2 linked regions of the Homo sapiens genome follow. The protein of the gene in region 2 interacts with the protein of the main gene of each other region in a pairwise test. Each region holds a gene or a part of one and is shown on either strand. Other genes may lie near its edges.

Region 1 (3,837 bases), on a different chromosome or scaffold from region 2:
AAATTAGCCAGGCATGGTGGTGGATGTAATCCCAGCTACTCGGGAGGCTGAGGCAGGAGAATCACTTGAACCTGGGAGGCGGAGGTTGCAGTGAGCTGAGATCATGCCATTGCACTCCAGCCTGGGGGACAGAGCGAGACTTCATCTCAAAAAAATAAATAAATAAATAAATAAAATGAACAAAAATAAAATAAAGCTGTCTTAAGTCTAAGTGAAGCAAGTATGAAATTGTCTAGGTACATTTGTTGAGTTTACAAGGGCTATATCCATTTCACTTACCTTTTCAGAATCTGTACCTGGACACCTCCAATTGTACAGGTAATACTGCAAATTGCCATCTCCTATACCAAACTTGAGTTTTTCCAAGAATGTCTTATTTTCCATCAAATCCAGTGCATTGAATACATCAAATCCTTTCTGCCAATTTAAAAAAGATTTAAAATTTAAAACAAAGGACTAGTGTTTTCTGTATTACATATCTCAGTTTAACAATTCTACTAATAGCTCGAATATGCATTTCTAATAGGATTTAACGTCCGTGATATATAGCATAGGTTAAGAATTCAGGGCCGGATGCTGTGGCTCATGCCTATAATCCCAGCACTTTGGTAGGCTGAGGTGGGTGGATCACTTGAGGTCAGGAGTTCGAGACCAGCCTGACCAACATGGCGAAACCCCATCTCTACTAAAAATAACAAAAATAAGCCAGATGTGGTGGCGCACACCTGCAGTCCCAGCTACTCAGGAGGCTGAGGCAGGAGAACTGCTTGAGCCTGGGAGGTAGAGGTGGCAGTGAGCCGAGATTGTGCCACGGCACTCCAGCCTGAGCGACAGAGTGAGACTTTTTTTTTTTCTTTCTTTAAAAAGAGGAAGAATTCAGTTGAAAATTGTCTTATAAAACTAGCAGTGTGGCTGGATGTGGTGGCTCACGCCTGTAATCCCAGCACTTTGGGAGGCCAAGGTGGGAGGCTCACTGGAGCCCAGGAATTTGAAACCAGCCTGGGCATAGGCTGTAGGTATAGGTGTAGGTGTAGGTACAGGACATTGTCTCTACAAAAATAAAAAGATTGACTCGGCATGGTGGTGTGTGCCTGTGGACCCAGCTACACAGGAGGCTGAGGCAGGATTGCATAAGCCGAAGAGGTCGAGGCTGCAGTGAGCTGTGATTGTGCCAGTGCACTTAAACCTGAGCAACAGAGTGAGCGCCTGTCTCAAAAAACAAACAAACTATAGTGAATCCAATGAAGTCAGCATGAAAATTCAGAAACGCTGAATCCCAAAAATGTTAAAAATGTAGTATGATGGCTGTCACTGGCATAAAATTACTTATGAAGATTTCAGAAAATATTTTATTTATGTTTTATTTATTTATTTTTAAATTTTTTTGAGATGGAGTCTCACTCTGTCATCCAGGCTGGAATACAGTGGCATGATGTCGGCTCACTGCAACCTCCACCTCCCAGATTTAAGCAATTCTCCTGCCTCAAACTTCCTAGTAGCTGGCATTACAGGTGTGCACCTCCATGCCCAGCTAATTTCTTTGTATTTTTAGTAGAGACCGGGTTTCACCGTGTTGGCCAGGCTGGTCTTGAACTCCGACCTCAAGTGATCCACCTGCCTTGGCCTTCCAAAGTGCTGGGATTACAGGCATGAGCCACTGCACCCAGCCTCGTTCTTGTTTTAGAAGGGAACAGTTGTCAAGATGGTTTCATCTCCAGGATTATTAATTATTAGCCTTTCTAAGTCCTACCTTGGCTGAAGCTATTGCCCAGGGACCAAAGTTGTAAAGACTTTAAATAGTATGCAGGCCGGGCGTGGTGGCTCACGCCTGTAATCCCCGCACTTTGGGAGGCCGCAGCAGGTGGATCACCTGAGGTCAGGAGTTCGAGACCAGCCGGGTCAATATGATGAAACCCTGTCTCTACTAAAAATACAAAAATTAGCCAGGTGTGGTGGCACACACCTATAGTCCCAGCTACTCTGGAGGCTGAGACAAGAGAATCACTTGAACATGGGAAGCAGAGGTTGCAGTGAGCCGAGACTGTGCCACTGCACTCCAGCCTGGGTAACACAGCAAGACTCATCTCAAAAAAAAAAAAAAAAAAAAAAGTATAAAAAAATAGTATGTTTGCTTTGGGCTGATAATGGGAAATATATTTATGTAAAATTTTAATGGTAAAAAATTAAATTTCTTTAAAATGTCAGACAATAATACTATGCAAAATGTGATATAGAAGAAGCACTTTTTATTTTTATTTCTCAGGGTTTTTACCTTAAATAACTAATTACTGGCCATATTTGGGAAGTGTTGAAAAAAAGCAGACAATCTGAGGATGATGTTGACTTGGGGATCCAAAGGCACAGGTAAGAGATTTTTATTTTATTTTATTTTAATTAATTAATTAATTTGAGACAGGGTCTCACTCTGTGGCCCAGGCTGGAATGCAATGGTGCAATCTCGGCTCACTGCAACCGCCAACTCCCAGGTTCAAGTAATCCTCTTGCCTCAGCCTCCCGAGTAGCTGGGATTACAGGTGTGTGCTATCACACCCTGCTAATTTTTGTATTTTTAGTAGAGACAGGGTTTCACCATGTAGACTGGCTACAATTAAATTTTGAATTTCATTCCTTTAATTTTAAAATTCAGAGACTATTTGGTTGAATAAAAAAATTGCTGCTAGTTATTCACTCAACAAAAATATTCACTCATGTATTAATATTTTCCTTATATTACTTCCTAAGATATGGGCTTTATATATATATATATATATATATATATATATATATATATATATTTTTTTTTTTTTTTTTTTTTTTTTTTTTTTTTTTGAGACAGTTTCTGTCACCCAGGCTGGAGTGCAGTGGTGCAATCTCAGCTCCATTGCAACCTCTGCCTCCCAGGTTCAAGCAATTCTCCTGCCTCAGCCTCCCGAGTAGCTGGGATTACAGGCACACACCACGAAGCCTGGCTAACTTTTGTATTTTTAGTAGAGACGAGGTTTCACCATATTAACCAGGCTGGTCTTAAACTCCTAACCTCAGGTGATCCACCCATCTCGGCCTCCCAAAGTGTTGGGATTACAAGCCTGAGCCACCATGCCCAGCCTTATATATTCTTATATAAGGATTAAACATTTATAATTTGTACATTTTGTCTTTTTTGTTAAACTGCCATAAAATTAATGATGAAAATAGCCTCTAAAGTTTCAAAAGAAACTCTTATCAAAATTCTTCCTTTGACTGATGATCAATAGTTTTTTTAAAGTCTCGCATAAATTCCACCTGTGTGGAAGAAAACACAGTAAGATGTCTTCTATAGTTTGGCACAGACATTTGGAGAACCAAACGGCGTGAACAGGAAGGAGTGGCTTACCGATTTAGCCAGGATGAGCGCGTCGCTCATGAGGTCCAGCAGGGGCGTCTCTGTGTGGATGTTGTAGAATGAGTAGGCGGCTTTGAGGCTCTTGTGAGCAGGGTGGTGCATCACCGTGGAGGGGAGCGTATAGAAGCTCAGGAAATCAGTCAGTTTACCGTTGGGGCTCTAGGAGCAAAAGTGCTGTCAGACAGAGATCTCCTTGAACCAACTGCATACGTGCATTTCCACTAACTCTGTTCTCTCCCTTGCCCCAGAGAACGAAAAGCAGTAAGTCACACTTCTTTCTCGGCAGTCCAATTTGGGGCCCCTTATATTGTGCTGTGTAGAGGCCAAGAAGGGCCTGGAGTTGGGACTTCAGCCTAAGTGCCCATTGGTGATTTGCACAAAGTTCTTAGGAAGCAGAATGTCATGCCTGTAATCCCAGCACTTTGGGAGGATGAGGCGTGTGGATCATGAGGTCA
Region 2 (3,076 bases):
TAGTAGAAATGGGGTTTCACCATGTTAGCCAGGATGGTCTTGATCTCCTGATCTCATGATCTGCCAGCCTTGGCCTCCCAAAAAGTGCTGGGATTACAGGCGTGAGCAACCGTGCTAGGGCCCTATTTTGTTAAATATTATTCTACAACATTATTTAATGGTTACAGAATATCCCATTGTATGCAGGTAAAATAATTTATTTGATCACATCCTCCCTCTCCCTATTGTTGGATATTTACGTTGTTTCAATTTTTCACTATTATAAACACTGCTTCAATAAGCATATTGTAGTTACATTTTTGTATATTTTCTTAATGATTTATTCTGGATAAATTTTCATAAAATGGGAATTACTGGACTAAATGCATTTTCTTAAACCTTTTTTTTTTTTTTTTTCTGAGACGGAGTCTCGTTCTGTGGCCCAGGCTAGAGTGCAATGGTGCAATCCTGGCTCACTGCGACCTCCGCCTCCCAGGTTCAAGTGATTCTCCTGCCTCAGCTGCCTGCGTAGCTGGCACTACAGGTACACACCACCACGCCTGGCTAATTTTTATTTTTTTAGTAGAGACAGGGTTTCACCATGTTGGCCAGGCTGGTCTTGAAGTCCTGACCTCAAGTGATCCACTCACCTTGGCCTCCCAAAGTACTAGGATTACAGGTGTGAGCCACCGCACCCAGCCTGTTTTCTTAAACATTTTGATATGGGTTACAAAACAGTCTTCCGGAAAGGTTCTATAATTTCTGCATATAAATTTTTGTGGTCTAATAATTGATTAATTTTTTAATCTTTAATTTTATTTATTTATTTTTATTATATTTTTAGAGACAGGGTCTTGCTCTATCACCCAGGCTGGAGAACAGTGGTGTGGTCATAGCTCACTGCAGCTTCGAACTCCTGGGCTCAAGTGATCCTCCCACCTCAGCTTCCCAGAATGCTGGGATTACAGGTGTGAGCCACTGCACCTGGCCTAGATTAATTTTTATTAGTCATTCGTGGGGACTAGAAAAGATGGAATCTCTGTATATAGGGTTCAAAGTTTAATAAGTATCTGTTAAGCTCAATCTTAATATATCCTTGTTTATACTTTGCCTCATTGATGTGCCAAAGCATAGGATGTATTAAAGTCTCTCGCTAGCATACTAATTCCATTATATGTTTTCTTCTGGAGCCTCAAGTTTCTTATTTATACATTTGAATGCAATATAATTTGGTACTGAAAGTTTCATAACAGTTTAATCTTTGCTGTGAATTGTTGCCTTTGTCAGTATAACGTGATCCACTTTCTCCTATTTAATACTTTTTCTCCCTAAATTCTTCTTTTTATTAATAGCATAATCTCCGCTTTCTTTCTTGTATGTCCGCTTTCTTTCTTTCCCTGGTGTTTTTCTTTAAGCTTTTTACATGTCACTGTATTTTAGTTGTTTCTTATAAACAGCATGAAGTTGGATTTTATATTTTTACCTAACCTGAGAGTTTATTTATTTTTATAACTTTTATTTTTATCTTTTGTCATTTTTTTCTATTATTTACATATTTTATGCTTCTATTCTGCTTTTTTCATTTCTTTTGACAACTATTATTGAATGAGTAATGTATTCTTTATTTTTAATCTTTTCTAGTGGTGTGTGTGTGTATACACACATATATTTACATATTTATATATACAGACATATATACACTAGATTATAGTGTTTTCTTCCCAAGCCAATCAATATATTTGTACTCAATCATTTTAGTGTTGGTATAGTATTATATTGTATGGATTTTCCATAATTTGTTATTCCCTATTGATTAATAGTAATAACAATATATAATAAATTATATACTATAATACCATATTATTGATATAAATATAAATAACATAAAGCCATGTAAATAATATAAATAATGCTATGATGAAGTATTATACTTCATCTATTCTTTTCACATTTCATTAAACAATTTTATTCAAATTCAGAGACTTTTTCTTGTGGTAAAAAAATATATATATATAATTTGTCATTTTAACCATTTTCAAGTGGCACTAGTTACTTTTACAATGTTATGTAACCATCATCACTGTCTATTTCTAAAACCCTTTCATCACCCCAAACAGAAACTCTGTACCCACTAACCAATAACTCCCATTCTTTCCTCTCCCTCCAAATTGCTGGTAACCTCTAATCTACTTTCTGTCCCTATGAATCTACCTATTCTACATATTTCATAAAGCAGAATCATACAATATTTGTCCGTTTGTGTCTGATTTATTGCACGTAGTATATTTTCAAGGTTCATTCACGTATCAAAAATGTCATTCCTTTTTTTCATGACAGCGTACCATTGAATATCATTGCTTTTTATGTATGTATATACATTTTGTTTATCCAGTCATCTGTTGATGGATATTTAGGTTGTTTCCACCTTGTGCCTATTGTTAATAATGTTTATGTTGATGTACAACTAGCTGTTTGGGTTCCTGTTTTCATTTAAGTATATAACTGAGAGTGGAATTGCTGGCTCATATGGTCATTCTATGTTAAAATTTTTTCTTTTTCTTTTTTGGGATGGGTCTTTACTCAGGCTGGAGTCTTGAAGTGGTACAGTCATGGCTCACTGCAGCCTCGACCTCCCCAGCCTCAGGTGATCATCCCACCTCAGCCTCCTGAGTAGCTGGGACTACAGGCGTGCACCACCACACCCGGCTAATTTTTGTTGATTTTGTAGAGACAGGGTCTCACTATGTTGGCTAGGCTGGTCTCGAACTCCCGGGCTCAAGTGATCCACCTGTCTCGGCCTCCCAAAGTGCTGGGATTACAGGCATGAGCCACGATGCCTGGTCTATATTAAACTTTTTGAAGAAGTTTGGTGCTTAAAGTTTCGTAACAGACTGTTTTTCACAGTGGCTGCACCGCTTTATATTCCTACCAACAGTGCACAAGAGTTCTAGTCTCTCCATATCCTCCATAAATCATTTGTCATTTCCTGGGGTTATTTTGTTTTTTTCTTGTTTGTAGTATATTTTCCCATAACTTCACTTACCGTCATCCTTGAATCTTAAACTAGTTATATAGTTCAGCTCTGCAAAATCAAGTT

The links.
Region 1: the proteins of ANXA4 (region 2) and NMT2 interact in a two-hybrid assay, tested with the Homo sapiens proteins (one large-scale study listed by BioGRID and IntAct).

What each region holds. Positions count from the first base shown.
Region 1 is NC_000010.11:15,109,423-15,113,259, forward strand, and holds part of NMT2 (glycylpeptide N-tetradecanoyltransferase 2), read right to left. Parts: intron 3,542-3,837; coding exon 3,374-3,541; intron 2,365-3,373; exon of another isoform or gene 2,106-2,364; intron 418-2,105; coding exon 280-417; intron 1-279.
Region 2 is NC_000002.12:69,821,825-69,824,900, reverse strand, and holds part of ANXA4 (annexin A4), read right to left. Parts: intron 1-3,076. UniProt on the Homo sapiens protein: Calcium/phospholipid-binding protein which promotes membrane fusion and is involved in exocytosis.